Linked DNA regions of Homo sapiens. The protein of the gene in region 1 interacts with the protein of each later gene in a pairwise test. Each region holds a gene or a part of one and is shown in the gene's direction. Other genes may lie near its edges.

Region 1 (3,500 bases):
TTCTGAGTAGTAGCATGATGAAGTCTGGTCGTCCTGCTCTGTCCAGCCCGGGACGTGAGTCGTTCCTTTGTCCAGCATGTCCAAGCTGTGTGGCACATATGGGCGGGAAAAAGCATAGCATATATGGGGTTCAGCACCATCCACAGTTTCTGGCGTCCACGTGGTGGGGGTAGGGGGTGCTTCTTGAAACCCTCATGGATGAGGGGGACTACTGTGAACCAAAAGCTTAATTTAAAGAAGTGACCACAGACTATATTGCACTATTCAGGATTTAGTTATCTTTTTGAATTGTAAACAGATAATCAAGAACAAACATTCCGGAAGATGTTTCTTGTTTCCTTTGCTTTTGATTTTCTTCTGATGCTTCTTGGTGTCTTTTCTTGCTGCGGATCCCACAGGGACACCTCCACATCGCCCAGGTGCCGCAGGGGGAGCAAGTCCAGATCACGCAGGACAGCGAGGTGAGTCAGCTCTCGCTGCAGCACTGTCCCTGCAGGCACCGTGCCCACATGCTCCCGACCTTCATCGGTGTCACAGTGCGAGGGCAGCAGGGAGCCCCCAGGACAGGGAACGTGGGCAAGGGCTGCAGGACTCCGCTTCCAGGGTGCACATAGCGGGCCTGCAGTCTCTGTGGCCTCTCTGCCTCCCCCTCCTGTCCGTTGGTCTCCACAGCTTCTGGTCTGTCTTGGTAAAGATCTCCTGGGTAGATGTTTCTACTGCTGGCTGGAAGTGCCCTCTGAGTACCCTTCTCTCCCTGTCTGGCCCTGCCCTTCCTGCCAGGGGAGGCCCCCAGTGTGGCCGAGATGGGGTCTGCCCCTGCGTAGGTGACCTGACATACCCCCTCACCTGCCATGTGGCCCCAGCTTCCTAGTGGCCTCTACGGGATTAGTGCCGATTTCATGGGATGGTGGGGAATCCCACAAGGTGATGCTGCCAGTCCTGAGAGCTGCTCATAGCCCTTGACGCACCTGCTGGGTCTGTGATTGTCTCAGTTTCTGGAGCTCTACCCGGCCACGCACTCAGAAGTGCGGGCTCAGCTGCTGTTGGGGTCTGGAATGTGAAGGCGGCAGTGACAGTCTGAGTTCTTGGAAAGCCGAGGCCAGCCTGTTGCGATGCTCCATGTTTGCATGCCAGAGCAGGACTGTCTCCCGGGTGACCGTCCTTCGACTCTGGGCTGTTTCCTGCAGCACAGGCAGCAGCAGGCACAGGGCACTAAGCAGCACACACGTGTTGTACTCAGTGACCGTGGTGCGCTCTGGGGGATGAGGAACATGGCTGTTTCTAGGTCGTGACAATGGCACCAGCTTTGTGTTTGGTGCATAGTAGTGTGTCGCTGCAAAGATCTCAGGCTTCCCCACACACACCAGCAGCAGAGACTAGGAAGCCCGGGTGCTGAGGTCAAGGGGACTCATGGAGATGTTGGCGTGCGAGGCCTCCTGGGAGCTCATGCTGGGTGCAGGTGCTGTGGGGGAGCAGAGGAGAGAGAAGCCCTGCCATCGGGGACTCACAGCGGGCGCAGAGCCTCCTGCCCAAGTGCCCGTGAGCAAGACTGTGGACACATGCACGCCGTGGCACGTGGAGCACCAGGGACTCGGGCGTGTCTGCTGGCAGTGGCTTTAATTTGGACACCAGCAGTTCCCGGTGGGTTATCCTGAGAGGGGAGCACATGCGTAAGGGTTCTGAGGGCGGAATGAGGATGAGGTGAAAGGGGAGGAACGAATTCATGTGGGGGCCGTGAGCGACTGGGAATGAGTGGGCTCATCCACACAGCGACATGACCAGGTCACTAAGAAACGTGGTCAGATGGATGGATGGAAGGAAGCAGCAGGGCGGGGAGCAGGTAGGGGACGGTCCCAGGAGGCCAGAGTGTCCAGGAAGGAGCAGGGCCTTCCCTGTTCTGTGTCTGTGGGTGGGTCAGGGACCATCTCCTTGGAGATGTCAGGAGATGCGCCTGTCAGCTCAGCGAGGTCAGGTGCAGGAGTTGGGGGCCTGAGTGGCTGCGAGGTGCAGGATCCCAGCAGCACCTTCCAGTGCAGGAGCTGCCTTTGAGGGGCAGGGGAAGGTTTGCTTCTCAAGGCACAGACAGATGTGGGCTGGGAGGCTAAGCTCACTGCCAAAGAGCTCAGCCAGAGTTCTTGAATACCTGGAAGCCTATGAAGTTCGTCAGAATGCTTAATTTCCTTAGAGTCATTGAAAATGCAGGAAAATTGAAACAGCAGCAAAAGAAAAAAAACAACACACATTTGCTTTTTATAGTTTATGCTAAAAAAATCTTGACTACTCGAATTTCAATTTTTTATTATTAGTTTTATCCATCAGTTTTCAAAACTGAATCCATCTTGTATAGGTGATTGTCTTTCGTTTTCAATAGGAATTGAATGCAGTAAGTTAGAAATTGCTAATAATACTAACGATGGCTTTGTGATGAGTGACAGTATGCAGTCTCGTCACCATACATTCATACCGTGTTCATTTAAAATTATTTTGTTAAAACAGGATATCTGCAAATAAACATTTAGCAGGGTCTGACAGACAACACAGTTCCTTTTTACAACAAATGAAAATGAATTTCTAACTGGAGAGCTCTTAGTAGCTCTGTGGTTGAGTGAGTTGGTTCCTTGCGTGCAGCCCGTGACCTGGCGTGGTGATGCCGCACAGCTCAGCAAGGCGTCCCCCTTCGGGGAAGCTGGGCGACACACACATAGGACGTCTCTCTGCTACTTTCTGTACTTTTTGTGAGTCAGATTCTTTCAAAATAAAAAATGAAGTAAAAATGACATTTTCATTTGGGGTCAGGGTAGGGGAATGAGTACAATGCTTTTTGAGTTGTTTGTTCATCTTTAAAATAATAAATAGTACCTAGAAATGTCAATATTTTGTTTTGGGGCTTTTGTTGCTACTGGAGGTTGAATTTTTGCAGAACTGGGGTTTTCTTGTTATTCTCAAGTGGCCTGTGATGTGTCTTGGCGTGTTTGCCGTGTCTGAGGGTGTCTTGGTGTGTTTCTACTCATGACCGTCTCCTCCTCTCGTTCTTTGTAGGGCAACCTCCAGATCCATCACGTGGGGCAGGACGGTCAGGTGAGTGTCCCAGTCCCCATGCACATGCGGGCGTTGCGCTGCCGAGGGATGGGGTTCTCAGGGGAGGGGGTGGGACGGTCAGGTGAGTGCCCTGGTCCCCATGTACATGTGGGCATTGCGCTGCCGAGGGGTGGGGCTCTCACGGGAGGGGTGGGACGGTCATTGTGGGCATTGCGCTGCCGAGGGGTGGGGCTCTCATGGGAAGGGGGCGGATGGTCAGGTGAGTGCCACAGTCCCCCTCTCACATACAGGCCATGGTGCTGCCAAGGAATGGGGGCTCTCGCGGGAGGGAGCGAGGGTGCAAAGGCCTCTCAGTGTGAGCCCCAGAGCAGGACTGGCTTTCCTCACCATGACAATGCACAGGCCTGGAAGGGGGGAGGGCAGGGCTTGGGGGTTACATTTGCTGCTCCGTAGGATTTCAG
Region 2 (4,031 bases), on another chromosome or scaffold:
CCTGGAGAGGATGTGGAACCTCAGGAGCCCCTGTGTGCAGCTGTCTCAGTGTGCACTGGTAAAAACACTCTGGCAATATGCCAAAAAGGCAAAGCTGTATATGGGATGCCCCAGCAATTCCACTCCTAGGTGTAGGTGTATACTCTAGAGAAATGCCTACATAGGTGCCCCAGGAGATGTGTGCAAAAATATTCATAGCAGCATTGTTTGTTAGACCTAAAAATGAAAAATAACCTACATTTCCTCAATGTCATGCATGCATCTAATGGAATACTATGTTACACAGCAGGTGAAGTCAATTAACTAGAGCTGGGCATACCGTATGGATGAATCTCACTAACAAAAACTATTCAGCAAAAAAGAGCAGATTGCAGAAGAATAAATACAGTGAGTAGGACAAAACCAACGACATATTGCTTAGAATGCATATGTAAGTATTTGCATAAAGAATATAAAGAAGTCTGGGCCTGATAAACACCAATTTCAGCAGGCGGAAGTGGAAGTGCACAGGGAGCTTCAACAGCTTATTTTTTAAACTGGTGATGAGTGAAGAGTACTGGTTATCTTATTCTTTATAACTTCTGTATATTTGAAATGCAACATTTTTTAAAGAGCCAGGACTTGAGGAGAGTCATATAAAGGAGACTGAGATGCCAGGGACAATTTCTACTCGTGGGAAGATTCAGAGTTGTTCCTGTCATTCCCTGGAACCCAGAATCCAGAGTCAATTAGTTAAAGACTCTGACATCTGCTAGGCGGGAGGCAAGAGACCTAACAAGGTAAGGCTAGGGGGATGAGAGGAGGGAAGGACGCTCTCATGCTGCCCCTCTTTGATCTGAACCCAGTTACTGGCCTGCGCGCCAGCCCTGGGCTGCAGATAATGCCAGGAGAAAACAGCTGGGCAGTCCTGGGAAGCCTGGGAGGGATGCAGAGGAGGGCGGGGGCCACACACGCTGGGAGGTGCACTAAGGCTGCTGCCCCCACACAGTGACAAGCGCTTCCTCGCAAACCACCTGGCACGGGCACCCTGACAGTTTACAGCACTGTCTCTCACTCTCCTTCTCTCTCTCTCTCTCACACACACACACACACACACACACACACACATACGCCCCATCCACCGCCCGCTCTGACCAGGACCCCAGCGTTGGGGATGCGGCCAAGTCAGCCAGCTGTGGGCCCTGCCAACCCTCCCTCTCTTCTAGGACTGGGTTTTTCCAGCCGGAGTCTCACTCCCTCTACAGCAATCTCGGGAAATTGGAGACTGACGCGGCTGCTCCTGCATGTTATTTATTTTTCCTCTTTCCCTCCCGTGGAGACCCTCCTGTTGGAAAGAGAGCTGCAGCACGGGACAGAGACAGGCAGGAAGAAGCAGAGAGGACTCGGTGACGCCCCCACCGAGCAGCCCCTGGCCCACTCCTCCAGCAGGGGCCATGAGCACCAAGCAGGAGGCCAGGAGAGATGAGGGAGAAGCCAGGACGAGGGGGCAGGAGGCACAGCTTCGAGACCGAGCCCACCTGAGCCAGCAGCGCCGGCTCAAACAGGCCACCCAGTTCCTGCACAAGGACTCGGCCGACCTGCTCCCGCTGGACAGCCTCAAGAGGCTCGGCACCTCCAAGGACTTGGTGAGGCATCACCCCTCCCCTGCCAGCGTCCCCTGGCCTTTTCCTTCCACTTCCCAGATCCTGAGCAGGAGGCAGGACCAGAAAGTGCAGACCCTCAGCTTTCAGGTCCCGCTCCCTTGCTGAGATGGGGAGAGGTCATCCTGCCAACTCAAGGCTCTTCACCGGGGATGTTCCCATGGTTTGGTGGCTCTGAGGGTTCCTATTCTCTCATTGCTTGGCTTCCCTTTTTCCTCTAATGGCCCCAAACTTGAGGGTGGTGAGGAGCTAGGCTGTTTAGAAGTGGGGGCTTACAGGAACACAGGAACCCTCTAGAGTGGTCACTTACAACCAGGAGGGCCTGGAGGACTGGCCAGTTTAGGGTTGTGACTTCCTGCTTCCCCCGAACCACAGGTTCCCCAGACCAGGTCTGTCTATCCACTTGTCCTTTCTCCTCAGAATCAAAACATCGGGGGTCTCCATCCTTCCCAGGGCATCAGGGTTTTGTGTGGCTCTTGCCGGGGGCCCCTGGCCGCCTTGAGTGCTGCTCCCCCAACTCCTGAGTGGAATGGACCTTCCAGGCTCCTCTCCTCCCATCCCATGTCTGCAGCAGCTTTGGCCTCAGAGGAATGGGGCAGGGGAGTAACAGTGAGGATGTGAGTGGGCGGCGGAAAACTGCAGATTCAGGCATTCCCCTCTGAGAGGCAATGCTGACAAGCGGGGCTGCGCAGCCACTTCGCTTGGGATCAGATCCTGGCTCTGCCATTTACTAACTTGTGCAATTGACTTTACGTCTCTGTGCCTCAGTTTCTTCATCTGTTAAATGAGAATCAAATCAATCATAGGATTGTTGGGAGAGTTGTTAGAGCTAATATATTTAAAGCACTTAGAACAGTGCCTAATAGCAGGCACTATCTAAATGCTATTATTATTATTCCCCCAGCTATTACTCCATTTAGTCTGAGAAATATTCCTGGCCTCTGACCCGTGGAAGAGAGGAAATCCTTTGTAGAAAGGCTTGGGAGCACTCGGTTCCCTGTCCCCTCTCCTAGTCTGAGAAGAGGTACTCAACCAGGCCTGTACTGACAGGTTGGAAGCATGTCTGCAGGCCTGTGCTCCACCAACTGCTTCTCCCCGGGAACCTGAAGGCCAGTGCAGCACCTCGCCTTTCCCTACTTAGCTCCACCTTTCCAGACTCCTCTCAGCCTGGGTTGCCCCCACCAGGACCACAGCCCAGAGGTCTGGCAATTCCCTAGCTCCCAACGAGAAAAGGGATTGCACTGAGACTTAATTCAGGGAACTGCCAGGGGCTTATTCCTACTTGCAGTGGCAGCAAGCATAGCTGAAAAACAGGGATGGAGCAGGGAAGCGGGTTCTTCGGCTCTCAATGGCTGGAACCTACTGGGGACCATCCTACATGTGTTTGGCCCCAGGAGAAGGTGCTCTACTGACATTGCCATCCCGGAGTGGCAGGTCCCGCCTTCTAATGAGAAAGTCCCGGGCTTTTCACCTCTCCCCTCTGCCTAGGATATCCCCAATTGATCCCTAGCAGTTACCTCCTATGGCTCTGGGAGCAAAGGCACAACAGGCAGGGAAGACCCCATCGTCTCCCTCCCTGGGATGGCTGAGGAGCAAACTGCACAACAGCGGGAGGGGCCTGAAGCCTGTGTTCATCGTGGGAAGGTGGAAGATGGGAAGTGCAGAGCCAGTCTCTCCAGCCAATCCCAGAGCTCGCTGAACTTTTCCCAGCACTGGGTCTACTGCTGGCAGCCTTGCTGCCAGGAGCAACCCCAAGGGCCTCATTAATCTAAGGGTAGAAAAACAATCCCAGGATCCCAAGGAGAGAGGGCAGGTGGAGAGGTGCATAGAGCCTGGGGGAAGAGTCAGTCTGCAGCAAGCATTTATTGAGTGCCTACTAGATGCTGAGCCATGCCCTGGGATATAAAAATGAGTGAGGTAGACTCAAGCGCTCTCCAGGCTAATGGGGGAGTAAAATCCATACATAACATTTGTGAGAAGCATGGAAAAGGGAGCTAAGACAAGGGACCCCAGCTTGGCGTGTATGGAGAGAGGAGCATGAAGAACTCAGAGAGGGTATCCTGGAGAGGGTACATCCTGCATTATAGGATGTACACAGAATCTCAAACTTAAGATACAACCTCTCTCTCAAATAAAGTGTGTTAAGCCAGTCATCCAGTCTAGCCTCGAGAAGAGTGAGGAAGAGGAGTTTCAGGAAGAGAGGAGAGAGGAGAGAGGAGTGAAGACATGGAGGCAAAAAGCGGCCTGGTATGAGCGGTGCTTCTGGGGCCCATAAACAGAGTGGCAGGGAAGGAGGCACGGCCCGGTCATGTGGACTGTGGATCACCTTCAAAAGCTTGAGCTCTATCATGAAAGCAATGCGGGGTAGGGTGGGGGGTCTTTGATGCATTT
Region 3 (3,500 bases), on another chromosome or scaffold:
AGGTTCAAGCGATTTTCCTGCCTCAGCCTCCCAGGTAGCTGGGACTACAGGTGCCCACCACCACTCCCAGCTAATTTTTTTGGTATTTTTAGTAGAGACGGGGTGTCACTGTATTGGCCAGGCTGGTCTCAAACTCCTGACCTCGCAATCTGTCCACCTCAGCCTCTGAAAATGCTGGGATTACAGGCATAAGCCACCGCACCCGGCCTGTTTTCTACATACTCTATATCCTATGATGACTCAATTTCTACACCACTCTTCTGTGTTTGAATGCTGCAAGTCTTTCTTTCTTAAATCTCAGGTTAAGTGGTTTGGCTTTTATTTGGCATAAATATGTCATTTATTTTATAAGTCCATTTTGTGCCTTTTTCTTTAGCTCATCTGAATTCTTGTACATTGATTTTGGATGTGATGTGGTTATTCAGATGATCCAGAATGTACTTTATAAAAATACTATTGAAATGAAAATACAAACCTTTCTTTTTTAAAAAAAAATTAGGTCAGGTGCAGTAGCTCATGCCTGTAATTCCAGCACTCTGTGAGGCCGAGGTGGGTGGATGGCTTGAGCTCAGGTGTTTGAGACTAGCCTGGGCAACATGGCGAGACCCCGTCTCTAGAAAAACTAGACAAATTAGCTAGTCATGGTGGTGCACACCTGTAGTCCCAGCTACTTCAGAGGCTGAGGTGGGAGGATCACTTGAGCCCCCAGGTGGAGGTTGCTGTGAGCCAAGATTGCGCCACTGCATTCCAGCCTGGGCAACAGAGTGAGACTCTGTCTCAGAAAAAATTTATTGTTTTAATTTGTTTTTTTCATGGAACACTTCACAAATTTGCATGTCGTCCTTGTGCAGGGGCCATACCAGTCTTCTCTGGGAAATACAAACCTTTCAAAACTTCATCAGAACTCATGGCTTATAGTCTACTGCTCCCAGTTTAGTTTGAGAAATATAGTTCTATAACTGGTTTTTTAGTTGTTGATGTTTTATTTTAGAAATAAAAGCTAAAATCTGGCCGGGCGAGGTGGCTTACACCTGTAATCCCAGCACTTTGGGAGACCGAGCTGGGCGGATCAATTGAGGTCAGGAGTTCAAGGCCAGCCTGGCCAACATGGTGAAACCCTGTGTCTACTAAAAATACAAAAAATAAGCCAAGCGTGGTGGCACACGTCTGTAATCCCAGCTACTCAGGAGGCTGAGGCGGGAGAATCACTTGAACTTGGGAGGCGGAGGTTGCAGTGAGTGGAGATCACGCCACTGCACTCCAACCTGGGTGACAGAGCAAGACTCCATCTCACACTCACAAAAAAAAGCTTAAATCTAAGTGGTATAGTTAACCAGTTAATGCTGGTAGTAAGCTCTAGGTACAAAAAATACAGTTGACCCTTGAACAATGTGGGGATTAGGGACACCAACCCCAAGCAGTCATATCCACATATGCATATAATGTTTGAATCCCCAAAAACTTAACTACTAATAGCCTATTGTTGACCAGAAGCCTTACGGATAACATACATAGTTGATTAACACATATTTTGTATATTTATTACATATCATATTCTTACAATAAAGTATGCTAGAGAAAAAATGTTATTACAAAAACCGTAAGGAGGAGAAAATATAGTTACTGTTCATGAACTGAAGTGGATCATCATAAAGGTCCTCATCCTTGTCTTCATGTTGAGGAGGCTGAGGAAGAGCAGCGGTAGGTCTTGCTGTCTGGAGTGGCAGAGGCAGAAGAGGTGGAGGAGGTAGATGAGGAGACAGGAGAGGTGGGCACACTTGATGTAACTTTATGGAAATACATTGTAATTTCTGTCTAACTTTTTTTCCCCTGCCTCCCTCCCTCCTTCCCTCCTCCCTCCTTCCTCCTTCCCTCCCCTCCTCCCTCCCTCCCTCCTTTCTATCCCTCCTTCCTTCCCTCCTTCCTTCCTTCCTCCCTCACCCTTGCTTTTTTTTTAGAGGTGAGGTCTCGCTATGTTGCTGGTCTTGAACTCCACCTGGGCTTAGGCGATCCTCATGCCTCAGTCTCCCAAGTAGCTGGGATTAAAGGCATGCACCACTATGCTTGATTTCTCTAAAAATATTTCTCTGTGGTAGCAAGCTTTTTTTCACTGTTTGCTTTAGCTTCATTGTGTGTATCGTAGAAGGGTCCATGTCATAAAAAATTTCAAAAGCAGTCTTGAATAATGCCGATTGTCTACTGTCAGTTCGTTTTCTGTGCTTCTTCTACATCTTCTTTCTCATTGTCTGGCACTAGTTCGGAAGCACTCATCTCCATCAAGTTGTCCCCTGTTAATTCCTCTGCTATGGTATCTGTTAGCTCTTGAATTTCTCCAAGATCCCTCCCTTCCTTCCTTCCTTCCTTCCTTCCTTCCTTCCTTCCTTCCTTCCTTCCCTCCCTCCCTCCCTCCCTCCCTCCCTCCCTCCCTCCTTCCTTCCTTCCTTCCTTCCTTCCTTCCTATCCTTTTTTTTTTTTTGAGACAGAGTCTTGCTCTGTCGCCCAGGCTGGAGTGCAGTGGTGCGATCTTCGCTCACTGCAAGCTCTGCCTCCCGGGTTCATGCCATTCTCCTGCCTCAGCCTCCCTGGTAGCTGGGACAACAGGCGCCCGCCACCACGCCCAGCTAATTTTTTTTTGTATTTTTAGTAGAGACGGGGTTTCACCATGTTTGCCAGGATGCTCTTGATCTCCTGACCTCGTGATCTGCCTGCCTCGGCCTCCCAAGGTGCTGGGATTACAGGCGTGAGCCACTGCGCCCGGCTTCTTTTTCTTTTCTTTTTGACAGGATTTCACTCCTGCTCAGGCTGGAGTGCGGTGGTGTGATCATAGCTCACCGCATCCTTGACCTCCTGGGCTCAAGTGATCCTTCCACCTGAGCCTCCTGAGTAGCTGGGACTACAGGTGCACACCACCACACCTGGCTAACTTTTAAATTTTTTGTAGAGATGGGATCTCACTAGGTTGCCCAGGTTACTCAAACTGCGGGGCTCAAGTGATCCCCTCACCTTGGCCTCCCAAAGTGTTGGGATTACAGTCATGAGCCAGTGTGCCTTACCCAAGATGCATATCTTGAAACCCTTCACCTCCCACCATTTTTGTCATATCCACAATTTATTTCATGATTTTCTTCATTGGTTATGTCATAAATCCTATGAAATCATGCACAATGTCTAGACACAGTTTTCTCTGTAAGAATTTATTGCTTTTGGGCTGGGCTTGGTGGCTCATGCCTATAATCCCAGCACTTTGGGAGGCCAAGGTGGGCAGATCACCTGAGGTTAGGAGTTTGAGACCAGCCTGGCCAACATGGCAGAACCCCATCTCTCCTAAAAATACAAAAATTAGCTGGGCGTGGTGGCGCGTGCCTTTGATCCCAGCTATTTGGGAGGCTGAGGCAGGAGAATTGCTTGAACCTGGGAGGCAGAGGTTGCAGTGAGCTGAGATCAAGATTGCGCCACTGCACTTCACCCTGGGACTCTATCTCCAAAAAAAAAAAAAGAAT
Region 4 (4,230 bases), on another chromosome or scaffold:
CCTCCCCTCCTCTTCTCTTTTCTTTTTTTGAGACAGAGTCTCGCTCAGCTGCCCAGGCTGGAGTGCAGTGGCACGATCTCGACTCACTGCAGCCACCCTCTCCCGGATTCAAGCGATTCTCCCTGCCTCCGCCTCCCAAGTAGCTGGGATTATAGGCACCTGCCATCATGCCGGCTAATTTTTGTATTTTAGTAGAGACAGGGTTTCACCATGTTGGCTAGGCTGGTCTTGAACTCCTGACCTCAGGTGATACGCCTGCCTCAGCCTCCTAAAGTGCTAGGATTACAGGCGTGAGCCACCGCGCCGGGCCTTCTCTTTTTTTTTTTTTTTTTGTTTTTTTTTTGTTTTTTTGAGACAGGGACTCACTCTGTCTCCCAGGCAGGAGTGCAGTGGCACAATCCCAGCTCACTACAGCCTCCACCTCCTGGACGCAACCCCCACCTCGGCCTCCCTAGTAACTAGGACTACAGGGCACAGGCCACCATGCCCAGTTTTGTATTTTTTGCAGAGACAGGATCTCGCTATGTTGCCCAGACTGGTCTCAAACTCCCGGGCTCAAGCGATTCTCCTGCCTGGGCCTCCCAGGCATGAGCCACCTAGCCCGGCCTGTATTATCTTTTCTGGAATTCATCTCGCTTACTGGATTGCCAGCCTCTTCTGGACAGCAATTTGTACTCCTAATTCGCTTATTATAGTATGTCAAAGCATTTATTGTTTAATCAAATTAGGGCAGATCAATGAGAAGTTACCCTTCGGATACACTGTCCCATGACTTCTCCGTCCACCGACAGTCCTTCTTAGGCCCTTGGCTTTCCCATGCCACTTATACAATCTTTCAAAACATTTGAGTGCGTACCATTTATATTATTCAAATACGAAAAGGGAAAGCGGTAGGCGCACATTTCAGGTACTCGTCAAAGATGAGTTGGACGCTGGAGATAAAATAAAAAATGGGCCTACCATTTAGGGAGGTGTGACGAAGTGACACCACTCTTCCGTTAAAACCCGAGGGCCCATTGGGTCACCTCCATTTTATTCAGGTTTCGGAATCTCGGTCATGTGAGCTAACTTAAAAGGCTCAAGAGTGGTTACCTGCCTACCCGTCATAATCACTTCCCAATTCCTTGAAAACTTCGGGTTCCTCGGCCGGCCGCCAGCGCCGGGCGGAGAATCGCCCTCCCTCCCACTGCCCAGACTGGAGCTGCCTGTTCCGTTCCACCCCGCCCCACCCCACTGCATGCTGGGAGTCGTAGTCCCGGCTGGCAGCGTCCGGAAGGACGGGAGGGCACGGGAGTGCAGCCCGCCCATGTGGCTACTGGAGGTCACGTTCCCTAACTGATCCCTTGGTTCTCTCGGGTGGAGCCTTCAGCGTGCACGGCGGGGTTTGACTTTGCCACCGTCTCTCTTCTGGGTTCCAATAAAGTTTTCCTCTTCCTCTCCTCGTACGGAGTTCAAGATGGCGGCCTCCTGGTCGCTCTTGGTTACCCTGCGCCCCTTAGCACAGAGCCCGCTGAGAGGGAGATGTGTTGGGTGCGGGGCCTGGGCCGCCGCTCTCGCTCCTCTGGCCACCGCCCCTGGGAAGCCCTTTTGGAAAGGTCAGTGACTGTGCCATGAGTAGTCCGAGCCGACTGCATATGACTGGAGAAGCCTCTGGGATTACCCTCCCTGTCCGATCTACCCCAGGTGTCTCCTGCTTTCACGAAGCTGAGGGCTCCTCGAGAGGAGTTTCCATTTCTCTTGACCTTTTATACTGTCTGTGAATGAGCCCTGAGCACTGAGGGAAATGACCCTGAGTGACTTTCATTTTGAGGGTCAGAGGTTGACTCAGAGTTTGTTCCTTCCGGGACGTTTAGAGAGCTGAACCTAGTGGGAGTGCCTGGCTTGAAGAGATGCAGGTGTGGGGTTGGGGCCTGGGGACCCCTACCCTCTGCGTTTTCCAAGCTCTCGGGGCTGGTGACTGACGGGCACTGGAGGAAGAGCCGCGCCTGGGACCTCTGCAGGCCCTGATGTCTCTCGTGATTCTAGGAAGGAAGGTCCACACACATTCTCAGATTGAGGGATCGATTCTTGGTGTTCTTTTCAAGTCACTAGGGGCTTCAGTGGAATTATTTTGTCACCGGGCTTTCTTTCTCCCTGGCTTCCTTCATTCAGTTATATGTTCATGAATGAATGAATGAATGTATATTCTGAGTAACCAAGAGTGCCAGTTTTACTGCTCTATTCATGTATTCGCACTAAACTGCACGATTTTCAAAGGCAAGGACATTGTGTCATTGTTTCCTAAGCACTTAGCGCAATGATTGGTACTTGACGTGCAAATATGATTTTTGAGTGAATGAATGAATGAAATTATTCTCCTTGTCTCCCTCATCCACATACTCGTTTTCCTTTTTCTCAAATCCAAGCAACCCCTGTAATATACCTTAATAGATTGATAGACCTTAATAAGGTATATACCTTAATAGATTATTTATTAATTTAGCTAAAAATATGACAATCTTTGACCCTTATCATCAATGCAGTTGAAATTAATACTAGAACTTTGATTAGGTCACCTTACGTCTTTCTGCAAAGATTAGCATAATGCATTTAGTATAATGGAATAGGCTCCACACACTGCCTGGGGGTAGCCCTGATCTGCTGGAGTAGTCGTTAAAAGTAAATAAATAAATAAAGATATAATGGAATATTCTGGTAGTGTAAGCTGTGGATTATAATATAAATTTTATTTTTCATTTTTGGTAGTCAATAAAAGCAAATGCTATAAATTTCAACAGGTGCAAGAAAGAATATGGCAAAATGTAAGGCTTTTTTCTATCCCTATCCCTTAGCTGCTTAGTTTTTCTCCTCAGAGGCAATCTGTGATACTAGTTTCTTATGTATTCTTCCAGATATATTCTGTGTATGTATAAGCATATACATATATAGATAATGGTATTAAAAAAATAGAAGTAGTAACATGCTGTACACATTGTTTTGTGTATACAGCAGTTAATTCTGTTAATTGTTAATTTCTTTTTAAATTTAGTAGCTTGGAGATCATTCCATATCAATACCATATCAATTTCATATGAATAGAACTGCCTCGTGTTTTAAGTTTTAAAAATAGTATTCCATTCTATGTATATACCATGATTTATGAACATTAAAGATTTAAGGAGCATCATTATAACATATAAAATTCACTGAATGCTTATTCTGTGTCATACAATATACTAAGTACTTTCTACATACATTATCTTATTATTCCTCATTATCCTCATTTTGGAGATCATGAATCCAAGGTTGCTGAAGTTATATGGCTAGTAAGTGTCAGAACTGGATTCAAGTGAAGGCTGTGCTATTAATCTATACTCACACTTTCTCCAATACACAAAATTTAGCCAATTCTGGGTGTGAAGATTTGATGAAAATGCAGTTAGGTTAGAGGTCCATTTAATTGTATCTAAGGACGCTCCCTTCCCCTCTTTATTTTTATTTTGTTTATTTATTTATTTTTTTGAGATAGAGCCTTGCTCTGTCTCCCAGACTGGAGTGCAATGGTACAATCTCGGCTCACTGCAACCTCCACCTCCTGGATTCAAGCAATTCTCCCTGCCTCAGCCTCCCTAGTAGCTGAGATCACAGGCACCCACCACCACGCCTGGCTAGTTTTTGTATTTTTAGTAGAGATGGGGTTTCACCATGTTGGGCAGGCTGGTCTCAAACTCCTGACCTCAGGTGATCCGGAGCCTCGGCCCCCCAAAATGCTGGGATTACAGGCGTGAGCCATGGTGCCCTGCCCCCATCTTTAAATAAAAGGAAAATTTTAGTTGAAATTTTGTTCAGTATTCAGAGTCTGATTTACAAATCGATTTTCTATCCCTTTCCTGTTTTTTTGGGGGGGTACATTTCTATTTTACCTTCATTTTTCATCTTTTGAAGTCTACTATTTAGTACAGTGTAATGTGGCTGGGTGTGGTGGCTCACACCTGTAATCCTGGCACTTTGGAAGCCTGAGGGAGTAGGATCACTTGAGCTCAGGAGTTTGAGACCAGCCTGGGCAACATGGCAAAACCCCCTCTCTATAAAAAATACAAAACTTAGCCGGGTGTGGTGGTGCACGCCTGTAGTCCCAGCTACTTGGGAGGCTGAGGTGGGAGGATCACTTGAGCCCAGGAAGTCGAGGCTGCAGTGAGCTGAGAGAGATGGCGTCACTGCACTGCAGGCTGGGTGACAGAGTGAGAACCT
Region 5 (3,500 bases), on another chromosome or scaffold:
AGTAGCTGGGACTACAGGCCCCCGCCACCATGCCCGGCTAATTTTTTGTAGTTTTAGTAGAGATGGGGTTTCAGCTTGTTAGCCAGGTGGTCTCGATCTCCTGACCTCGTCATCTGCCCGCCTCGGTCTCCTGAACTGCTGGGATTACAGGCGTGAGCCACTGCGCCTGGCCACTAAAGTGTGTATTATAAAAACAATACAGCAAACACAATTTAGAAAGTTAAACTTTTTTTTTTTTTTTTTTTTTTTTTAGTAGAGACGTGGTCTTGCTATGTTGCCCAGGCTGGTTTTGAACTTCTGAGCTCAAGCAATCTGCCTGCCTTGGCCTCCCAAAGTGCTAGGATTACAGGTGTGAGCCACCACACCCAGCCTAAACTTTTGTTTTGTTTTGTTTTTTGAGACGGAATCTTGCTCTGTTGCCCAGGCTGGAGTGCATTGGCGCAGTCTTGGCTCATTGCAACCTCTGCCTCCTTGGTTCAAGTGATTCTCCTGCCTGAGCCTCCCGAGTAGCTGGGATTACAGGTGCCTGCTACCACTCCTGGCTAATTTTTTTTGTATTTTTAGTCCCGAGTAGCTGGGATTACAGGTGTCTGCCACCACGCCTGGCTAATTTTTTTCTATTTTTGGTAGGGATGGGGTTTCACCATGTTGGCCAGGCTCGTCTCAAACTCCTGATCTCGTGATCCCCCCACCTTGGCCTCCCAAAGTGCTGGGATTACCGGTGTGAGCCACCACACCTGGCCCTAGACTAAATGTCTTGCCAATTGTGACACAAATATTTTTATGCTAAGGGTGAAGTTTATTGTTAATTTAAGTCCACATTTGTAATTTTTGCTGAGAATAAAAACAAAGAGGCCTAAACCCAAAGCCTTCTTTGGGTTTAGAGAAGGTTTCCTTGCAGGAGTGTCAGTTTTAGCTGAAGATGTGAAGAATCAGGAGGAATTAGCTCAGGAGAGACTAGGGACAGGCATTCTAGTGCAGGGAAACATGGTGAAGGCTGTAAGGTGGGAAGGAGCAGGGTAAATTCCTGGTATGGCAAGAGTACCAGTGTGCCTGCACACAAGAGCGTGATGGAGAGAAGGGGCAAGATACGGCTAGAGAGGTACACAGAAGCTTGGTCGCTGCGGGCCTGCTTAGATTTTTGCACTCTGCTCTGAGAACAGTTGGCCGTAACTGAAGGGTTTCCACCAAACAGAATGACGTGAGATTTATACATACAGTGAAATTCACCCTCTAAGTGGCCAGCTCAATGAGTTTTAACAAATGTGTGCACCTTGGGGGGGTGCAGTGGCATACACCTGTAATCTCAGCTACTTGGGAAGCTGAGGTAGGAGGATTACATGAGCCCAGGAGTTCAAGAGCAGCCTGTGCAACATAGTAAAACACCATCTTTAAATAAATAAATAGATAGATTAGATAGGTAGATAGATTGATTTTAAAAACCAAAGAACAAATGTATACACCTATGCACCGTTCACCACTGTCAGGAAAATACAACATTTTTATCATCCCCCAGAAGTTCCCTTCTGCCTTTTTGTAGTCATTCCCCACCTGCCCTTGCTCCAGACAGCCGATCATCTTCCTATTACTGCAGATTAGTTTTGCCTATTCCGGAAAGTCATATAAATGCAGTCTTTGATGTCTGGCTTCTTTCAGCGTAGTATCTGGGGTTTATCTATGTTGTTGGTCATGTCAGCCATTCTTCTTTTCTATTGTTGAGTAGTGTTCAATTGTATGGAAATGCCAAATTTTGTTTACCCATTCATCTATTGGTGGAAATTTGTGTTGTTTCCAGTTTTAGGCTATTAGGAATAAAGTTAAGAGCATCTGTAAGCCTTTGTGTGGACGTGTTTTCCTTACTCTTGCGTAAATACCTAGGAAAACAGCCACTGTGTTGTATAATAACTGAGTGTTTAACTTTTAAGAAACTACCAAACTTTTCCAAAGCGGGTACATTTTCACTTCTACCATCAATGTACAAAGATTCTAATTGTTCTACACCTTCCTCAGTATTTGATATTGTCAGTCTTTATAATTCTAGCTGTACCAGTGAGTATACAGTGATCTCTCTTTGTGGTTTAATTTGCATTTCTCTAGTGACTAATGAAGTCGGTCATTTTTTATTTTTTGAGACGGAGTCTCGCTCTGTCACCCAGGCTGGAGTGCACCTCGGCTCACTGCACCTCCGCCTTCTGGGTTCAAGCAATTCTCCTGCCTCAGCCTCCCGAGTAGCCGGGACTATAGGCACACACCACCATGCCTGGCTAATTTTTGCATCTTTAGTAGAGACGGGTTTTCACCATGTTGGCCAGGCTGGTCTCAAACTCCTGATCTCAAGTGATCTGCCTGCCCCAGCCTCCCAGAGTGCTGGGATACAGGCATGAGCCATCACACCCAGCCAAAGCTGGGCATTTTTTAATGTGCTTATTGGACATTGGTATATCTTCTGTAGTAAGGTATTCAAATCTTTTGCCCCTTTTTATAGGAGTGTTGGCTTTACAGAATTGTAAGGTTTTTTAAAAATATATTTCATTTTAAGTGAGTTTTAGATTTTGACGCTATGCTTCACTTTGAATCTTTGTGTATGGTGTGAAAAGACCTGGTTTGTTTTTGTCTTTTTTTTTTCCTATGTGGCTGTTCATTTACTTCTGCACTGTTTGTTGAAAAGACTGTCCTTTCCCCACTAGACTACCTTGGCACCTCGGGTGGAAATCAGTTGTCCATATAATTGTAGGTCTGCCTCTGGGCTCTGTATCCTTTCACCAGTGCCTGAAGACCAAATATCTTGATTACTGCAGCTTTGAGTAGGCTTGAAATCTAGTCACATGAGTCCTCCAGCTTTGCTCTTCTTTTTCAGAATGACTTTGGCTACATCCTTTGCATCTTCATATACATTTTAGAATCTGCTTGGGTTTTTTTTTTTTTTTTTTTTGAGACAGTGTCTCACTCTGTTGCCCAGGCTGGAGTGCAGTGGTGCAATCTTGGCCCACTGCAGCCTCGACCTCCCTGGGCTCAGGTGATCCTCTCACCTCAACCTCCCGAGTAGCTGGGACTACAGATGCGAACCACTATGCCCAGCTAATTTTTGTATTTTTTATAGAGATGGGGTTTTGCCGTGTTGCCCAAGCTGGTCTCGAACTCCTGGGCTCAAGTGATTTGCCTGCCTCAGCCTCCCTAAGTGCTGGGATTACAGGCGTGAGCCACCACACTCGGTGAATCTGCTTGTTTTTTCACACAACAAAACCTACTGAGATTTTGATTGAGATAGATTTTGTGTGTGTGTAAAAATGTGCTGTTTTTATGGTTAATGAAATGACAGTGGTGAGACTGATACAGAAAGACCCGTTAAGGAGACCTGACAAACATCCAAATGACAGAGGGTAGTAGCATCAATGAGGGCGGCTGAGTAGAAAATAAGTGGGTGGATTTGAGAGAGATTGAAAAAGTGAGCCAAAGCTGATTGCTGATCTTTAACTGGTGGCTACCTTAGAACCATAGTC
Region 6 (3,713 bases), on another chromosome or scaffold:
TCCGGAGGCTGAGGTGGGAGGATCACCAGAGCCTGGGAGGCCAAGACTGCAGTGAGCTGAGATTGCACCACTGCACTCCAGCCTGGGAGACAGAGTCAGACTCTGTCAAAAAAAAAAAAAAAATTCAAGAATCATGGAAATATAAGTGTTCAATTTAAAAATTAATTTTATACGGCCAGGCGCGGTAGCTCACGCCTGTAATCCCAGCACTTTGGGAGGCTGAGGCGGGCAGATCACGCGGTCAGGAGATCGAGACCATCCTGGCTAACACGGTGAAACCCCGTCTCTACTAAAAATACAAAAAAAATTAGCCGGGCGCGGTGGTGGGCGCCTGTAGTCCCAGCTATTCGGGAGGCTGAGGCAGGAGAATGGCGTGAACTCAGGAGGTGGAGCTTGCAGTGAGCCGAGATCGCGCCACTGCACTCCAGCCTGGGCGACAGAGCGAGACTCTGTCTCAAAAAAAAAAAAAAAAAGAAAAAAAAATAATTTTATTAATATTGTTTTAAATTTTAATATGATTAATAATTTTATAACTTTTTAACTTTCAGGATGAAACTATTCACAAATGTTTCACTTTTTTTTTTTTTTTTTTTAGACAGGGTCTCACTCTGTTGCCCAGGCTGGAGTGCAGTGGCACCACCACGGTTCACTCCAGCTTTGACCTCCCGGGCTCCATCGATCTTGCCATCTCAGCCTCCCAAATAGCTGGGACCACAGGTACGCACCACCACGCCAGGCTAATTTTTGAATTTTTAAATTTTTCATAGGGACCGAGTCTCACCATGTTGCCCAGAGTGGTCTTGAACTCCTGGGCTCAAGCGATCAGCCTTCCTCAGCCTCCCAAAGTGCTGGGATTACAAGCGTGAGCCACCACTCCCAGCTTCACTCAGAATTTTAAAATCAATTTTCCCAAGTAGAAATCTGTATTTTCTGAATACTCCTAAAATGAAATAATTTAGTAGCATTAAAGGAATTGTATGTAGCATTTGGATGGGTCGGAGAGATCTGAGTGGTCTTTTCTCTAGAATCCCTGAAATCACAAGAAAACATGAGTTCTAAAGGCGAGCCATCTTTGAAATTCTATTACAGTTGTTATCATTTTTTCTGAATAAGTTATACTGATCATTCTGCCCCCTAGAGGCCTGTAAGAGTATTTCCCCAGCGTGTCCGACCAATTATAGCCACGGATACTGGACAGCACGGATACCTCCGCCTCTAGAGCGGGTCCTCCAGGGGGCGGAGCATTGCGTGACATTTTGCGACTTCGGTTCCGCTGCCGTCATTTACAACATAATTGGCTTTGCAGTGCGCATCCGGGTCTGCATCAGGAAGGCCCAAGGGTCCAACGAGCTAAGCTGAGCCCGGTGGCCGGCGAGGCACCACCAGCAGCCCAGACTACGGTCCCCCAGGAGGCGCCCCGGGAGCTCCGAGGACTCGCCCCGCGTCGCGCGGTCCTGCGCCCCGCTCGTCCCAACCAGCCTCCCCTACCACCGACATCTGTTACTTCAAAGAGGACTTCACCGCCGCGCTCCCCACGTCCGCTGCTAGGCCCAGGAGCGCCGTCCACAGCGCCGTCGAGGCGATGGTCAGCCGGCCCCGCAGCCCCAGCGCCTTCCCTGCTCCCTGGTGGGGACAGCAGCCAGGAGGACCCGGCCCTGCCAAGCGCCTCCGATTGGAGGAGCCCGCGGGCCCCGAACCCCGCGCGGCACCCAGCCTGGAAGACCCGGCGGGGGACCCGGCCGTGGACGCGCTCACCTCCATAGTGGTCCTGGCCGCGGGCTGTGCCCTGCGTGTGCCCCTGGACGACGTCGACCTGGTGCTGGAGCCCGCACCAACGTCGATCCTGCGAGTGTCTCTCGGTGGACACACCCTCATCCTGATCCCAGAGGTCCTCCTGAGCTCCGTCGACGAACGCTCAGGAGCGCAGCACGACTCGTCTGCCGGGCTGGAAGTGGACGTTTTCCTGGGCGCTGTCAGGGAGGACGTCGTCGTCGAGCTGGAATTCTGCGCATCTGTCCCAGAGATCGCCGCCCAGGAAGAGGCCTACGAGGAGGACGCGGACCCCGAGTTCCCGGAGCTCCGGATGGACTCCCCAACCGGCTCAGCCGCTGGGCTCTACCCCTCCTCTAGAAGTATGTTCATCCCCTACCGGGAGGGCCCCATCCCAGAACCCTGTGCTCTGGCCCCCAACCCCAGTTCAGAGAGACGTTCTCCACGCCCCATCTTTGACCTGGAATTCCGCCTTCTGGAGCCTGTCCCCAGCTCACCTCTCCAACCTCTACCTCCCTCTCCGTGCGTGGGGAGTCCAGGTCCCCACGCGCGCTCGCCGCTCCCGGAACGCCCTCCGTGCAAGGCCCGGAGACGCCTGTTCCAGGCATAGACCCCCACCCCCACGTACACACAACAATCCTGGCCGCTCTGCTGGAGGCCCTCTAGGATTGCGGGAATCTCTCACATTGAGTATCCAACAACCTGGAAATTGGGCACCGCGTGTTCGGACAATTGCTTTTTCGCTGCACACTACCGATAGTAGGAGATGAAGACGTCAGCAAGAAAAGGTATATTCTAGACCTCATCTTTAAATAGAAAATCTGCGCAAGGATACCAGAAAATGTGTCCAGATTTCTGGGCTTCTTTACAAGGTCATATTCAGATCCCTTCATTCTCCCTCGTTTTGCATCAGTTGTTTCTCTCAAATTCCAGTCTTTCTCCAGCATCATACTGCCACTCCCGTTTCTCCCCAAACCAAGAAATCACCAGATCTCTTACGTTGTTAGTTACCTTGCATTTTTTTCCCATGAATTTTGGAAGACTTAGCCATGGCTTTTCTTGGGGTTTTTCCAACTGCTCTCCAAGGAAACTGCCAAATAGTATGCTTACTATACAAGACTGTATGTTGCTTCTTCCTAGGAACCCCTTATCCTGCTGAAGTTTTCTTCTAGTCTTCTAATTCTAAATGAAAATTTGTGTTGAATTTTATCAGATGTTTTCAGCATGCATTGTGTTATGTATTTTTTTTTAATTTGTTAATCTGGTGATTTCACCCAATGGAAAGTGTTTGCATTCCTGCTATTCCACATTATTTTATACCTTTTAAAATCTACCCTGAGTTTTTTCTCATGTAAACCAAACTTCTAACTTTTAAAATGTTAGTTTATTACTGTAGTTGCCTCATATTTTTATATAGGAGATAAAAGATTACTGGTAAAGCTGATGTCAACAAGCTGGTTTTATTTTATTTAAAAACATCAATAACTATTCAGATCTACCACTATGCCTTACCAATTATTTCCTACATTTTTATTCTTACATTCCACTCCTTCACTGTAGCTTCAGTTTTCTTTTTGTGAAGAATATCCTTTAATATTTCTTTCCACTGTGTCTTACGTGTGATAAACTATCTTGCTTCTGTAAGTCTGAGCATGTTTTTGTGTGATAAACTTTCTTAGAATTGACTGTAAATGTTTTAATTACACCTTCATTCTTAATTTTAAAATGATATTTAACTACAGTACTTTAAAGATATTAGCCCGTTGTTTTGCCATTTTTTGTTGTTGCAGGATGTCTTCTGTCAATCAAGTTGTTAGTCCTTTTATATGTAATTTGGCTGTTCGTGTGTGTGTGTGTGTGTGTGTGTGTGTGCGTGTGTGTGTAGAGAGAGAAAGACTTTAAGACAGGGTTCACTCTGTCGCCCAAGCTGGAGTGCAGTGGTG
Region 7 (3,500 bases), on another chromosome or scaffold:
CTTGCTCTCAAGGAGTTTAGATTCTAGTGCAGGAGAAACAATAAGTCAGCAAACAAAATAATCAGATAGTAGAAGGTGTTTTATGGAGAATTATTACAGGTGATATGATACAGTGGTTATTGGGTGGCTAATTATAGGTCGAGTGACTAAGGTAGGGAAAGAGTCTGAACAACAGGAAGTAACCAGCCATGCAAAGATTGGGGCTGAGCTTCCAGCACTGGGAACAGCCTAGAACAAAAGCCCCTATGGAGGACCGAAAGCCCTGTGTGGCTAGAGCGTAGTGGGTTGGGGAGAGAGGAGAAAATGAGATAGTCGGGCCAGAGTTCATAGGCCAGGGCAGGTATTTTGCAATGTGATGGAGAATGAAGTGTTTTAACAAGAGAATGACAGTATGTTTTTTTTTTTTTTGAGATAGAGTCTCACTCTATCGCCCAGGGTGGAGCACGGTGGCATGAACTCGGCTCACTGCAACCTCTGCCTCCCGGGTTCAAGCAATTCTCCTGCCTCAGCCTCCCGAGTAGCTGGGATTACAGGCATGTACCACCATCCCCAGCTAGTTTTTGTATTTTTAGTTGAGATGGGGTTTCACCATGTTGGCCAGGCTGGTCTCGAACCCCTGACCTCAAATGATCCACCTGCCTTGGCCTCCCAAAATGTTGTGATTACAGGCGTGAGCCACCATGCCCGGCTTGTATGATTTACTATTTAAAAATTTCTGGGCCAGGCGCGGTAATCCCAGCACTTTGGGAGGCCAAGGCGGGCGGATCATGAGCTCAGGAGTTCAAGACTAGCTTGACCAATGTGGTGAAACCCTGTCTCTACTAAAAATACAAAAAAAAATTTAGCTGAGTGTGGTGGCACGTGCCTGTAGTCCCAGCTACTCAGGAGGCTGAGGCAGGAGAATTGCTTGAACATGGGAGGCAGAGGTTGCAGTGAGCTGAGATCTTGCCACTGCACTCCAGCCTGGGCGACAGAGCAAGACTGCATCCTCCACAACCAAAAAAAAAAAAAAAATTCTGTCTTTGAGGAAAAAAAGGTGACTTATGATTATTGTATGGAGATGGGATTGTACTAGGGGTAAGTGTAGAAATAGGGAAGTCAGGAGGCTCTTATAGAAGATGATGATGACTCAGATTAGGGTGGTAATGATGTAGAGAAGTAGATAAATTTGCTACATATTTTGTAGTAATTAAAGATAATGAATAGAAATTGAAAAATATTTTTTTCAATTTCAAGCTTGCTTTGGAACGTCAGAAAACTGCAGAGAAAGAGCGATTATTTCTTGTATATGCTAAGCAGTGGTGGAGAGAATATTTGCAAATTCGACCCTCACACAACTCACGACTGGTTAAGATTTTTGCACAGGTTTGTAAATTATATTAGAATAATTTTATGCCTGTATTTGAGATTTACTGTTATGTGTGTAAATTTCATTTAATATTTATTTGTAAAATGTATTCCAAAAAATAAAAGTGTATTTGTAAAATAAAATGCTGATTTTGTAATATTCTCTTTCACTGCATAGTGAGTGGCAAGATCAATCTATGTCTTATTTTACTTTCAATTTCAGTTATTGTGGGTTTTTGAAAAATCACCTTTCTCAGGTTGAATCAATTATTGTGTTTTAAACCCTTTCTGAATATATTTGATTTAAAGTAGATGAAAATCCATTTTGTTTAACTTGGAATGTGTATTTGCTTGATACTTAGTGCTAAATAATTAACCATTTGGACACTTTGCAGGTTATATGTAAATCCAGCTCTTGTGTGCAGAACGGGGGGGGGCTCTGGGCATATATATATTTTTTGTTAGGGTTTTAAAAAAAATTGTATATAACCACGACTTCTAAGCCAGTGACCAGTAATGTTTAACTGAAGCATTTCAACTATATATCTCTGCCTCCATTTTTCCTGAGTCCTAAACCCATTTTCTCTCTTTAACAGACCAATATAAAATATATGGTCAGGTCAGCTAGGCGCGGTGGCTCACGCCTGTAATCCCAGCACTTGGGGAGGCCGAGGTGGGTGGATCAAGAGGTCAGGAGATCGAGACCATCCTGGCTAACACGGTGAAACCCCGTTTCTACTAAAAACACAAAAAATTAGCCGGGCGTGATGGCGGGCTCCTATAGTCGCAGCTACTCGGGAGGCTGAGGCAGGAGAATGGCGTGAACCCGGGAGGCGGAGCTTGCAGTGAGCCGAGATCGCACCACTGCAGTCCGGCCTGGGCAACACAGCAAGACTCCGTCTCAAAAAAAAAAACAACAAAAAATGTGGTCAGGTTCACGTATTTTTTGTAACTCCTAAGGAACAGTTCAAATATTTTGTATATATTCAGCCTCATACAGATGCTTTCATATAAGTATAGTGTAGTATATTATTTTAAGTTAAGTTTCTCAAATCCTGTACATTCATCCAGCTTTACCCTACTTTCCCTAGATTTTGGAACAGGCTAAAAGTGGTTTAGTGTCCAGATGGGGAGCTTGGGAATGAGAGGTTGACTAGAGGTGGGAATAAGGGAAATGGCTTCTGACTTTCTGATAGCGTTGTTTATATATTGAATGACTGGTTGGCAAGGTAACAACATTATCAGGACAAAGGCAAGGAGAAACCAATCAAAATGTAACTGGCTTCCTGGCCGGGCGCGGTGGCTCACGCCTGTAATCCCAGCACTTGGGGAGGCCGAGGCAGGTGGATCCTCTGAGGTCAGGGGTTTGAGACCAGCCTGGCCAACATGGCGAAACCTTGTCTCTACTAAAAATACAAAAATTAGCCAGGCTTGGTGGCAGGCACCTATAATCCCAGTTAGTCAGGAGGCTGAGGCAGGAGAATTGCTTAACCCGGGAGGCGGAGGTTGCAGTGAGCGAAGATCACGCCATTGCACTCCAGCCTGGGCAACAGAGTGAGACTCTGTCTCAAAACAATAACAACGACAAAAAATATACATATATATATATATAAACTGGCTCCCTGCTGTCTATATAGTCTGAGGCATTTATTCATTGCCACGTGGAATTAGGAACTAGAGAGGACTCAGGATGGAGTGAGGCAGTGAATCAGAGAAATGGCAGGATCAAAGAGGAGGAAGAAGTTGAAATGCACTAAGGAAGTCAAGGAAGTGGGATTTTCTTTTAGGAAATATTACTTAAACGACTTCCTCTCTCAGAATTCATTTTAAGATTTGAACCATAGAACGTAATTTAGTCTCATAGTAACCATATAAGATTGTCAAGTGGCCAGGCATTGGCTCTTTTTGTAAACAGTATGAAGGTTAGAGAAGTGAACAGTCTTTTCAAGGCCAAACAGCAACTCAGTCATGGCAAAGTCTGTGTCAAATTGGAGTTTCAACTGGTGCCTTTTTGGTTTATGCCACCTCTTTCCATATACATAGAGTAAATAAAATGCTGATTTAATTTAGATTCCTCAGAACTGTTTCTTGCTGCTTCCTGTATTTGACTAGTTCTGAAATTAAACAACAACAGTGTAAAACAGTCAATCTAA

The links.
Region 2: the proteins of BANP (region 1) and NRIP2 interact in binary tests that used the Homo sapiens proteins (3 or more experiments, as listed by UniProt).
Region 3: the proteins of BANP (region 1) and LIN54 interact in binary tests that used the Homo sapiens proteins (3 or more experiments, as listed by UniProt).
Region 4: the proteins of BANP (region 1) and AFG1L interact in binary tests that used the Homo sapiens proteins (3 or more experiments, as listed by UniProt).
Region 5: the proteins of BANP (region 1) and LAP3 interact in binary tests that used the Homo sapiens proteins (3 or more experiments, as listed by UniProt).
Region 6: the proteins of BANP (region 1) and PRR23B interact in binary tests that used the Homo sapiens proteins (3 or more experiments, as listed by UniProt).
Region 7: the proteins of BANP (region 1) and CEP76 interact in binary tests that used the Homo sapiens proteins (3 or more experiments, as listed by UniProt).

Annotation. Positions count from the first base shown.
Region 1 is NC_000016.10:88,034,934-88,038,433, forward strand, and holds part of BANP (protein BANP), read left to right. Parts: intron 1-389; coding exon 390-461; intron 462-3,039; coding exon 3,040-3,078; intron 3,079-3,500. UniProt on the Homo sapiens protein: Controls V(D)J recombination during T-cell development by repressing T-cell receptor (TCR) beta enhancer function. Binds to scaffold/matrix attachment region beta (S/MARbeta), an ATC-rich DNA sequence located upstream of the TCR beta enhancer.
Region 2 is NC_000012.12:2,832,236-2,836,266, reverse strand, and holds the start of NRIP2 (nuclear receptor-interacting protein 2), read left to right. Parts: upstream 1-1,231; 5' UTR 1,232-1,283; coding exon 1,284-1,625; intron 1,626-4,031. UniProt on the Homo sapiens protein: Down-regulates transcriptional activation by nuclear receptors such as NR1F2.
Region 3 is NC_000004.12:83,000,824-83,004,323, reverse strand, and holds part of LIN54 (protein lin-54 homolog), read left to right. Parts: intron 1-3,500. UniProt on the Homo sapiens protein: Component of the DREAM complex, a multiprotein complex that can both act as a transcription activator or repressor depending on the context. In G0 phase, the complex binds to more than 800 promoters and is required for repression of E2F target genes.
Region 4 is NC_000006.12:108,293,624-108,297,853, forward strand, and holds the start of AFG1L (AFG1-like ATPase), read left to right. Parts: upstream 1-1,430; 5' UTR 1,431-1,456; coding exon 1,457-1,595; intron 1,596-4,230. UniProt on the Homo sapiens protein: Putative mitochondrial ATPase. Plays a role in mitochondrial morphology and mitochondrial protein metabolism.
Region 5 is NC_000004.12:17,590,698-17,594,197, forward strand, and holds part of LAP3 (cytosol aminopeptidase), read left to right. Parts: intron 1-3,500. UniProt on the Homo sapiens protein: Cytosolic metallopeptidase that catalyzes the removal of unsubstituted N-terminal hydrophobic amino acids from various peptides.
Region 6 is NC_000003.12:139,018,531-139,022,243, reverse strand, and holds PRR23B (proline-rich protein 23B), read left to right. Parts: upstream 1-1,317; 5' UTR 1,318-1,582; coding exon 1,583-2,380; 3' UTR 2,381-3,213; downstream 3,214-3,713.
Region 7 is NC_000018.10:12,689,224-12,692,723, reverse strand, and holds part of CEP76 (centrosomal protein of 76 kDa), read left to right. Parts: intron 1-1,236; coding exon 1,237-1,365; intron 1,366-3,500. UniProt on the Homo sapiens protein: Centrosomal protein involved in regulation of centriole duplication. Required to limit centriole duplication to once per cell cycle by preventing centriole reduplication.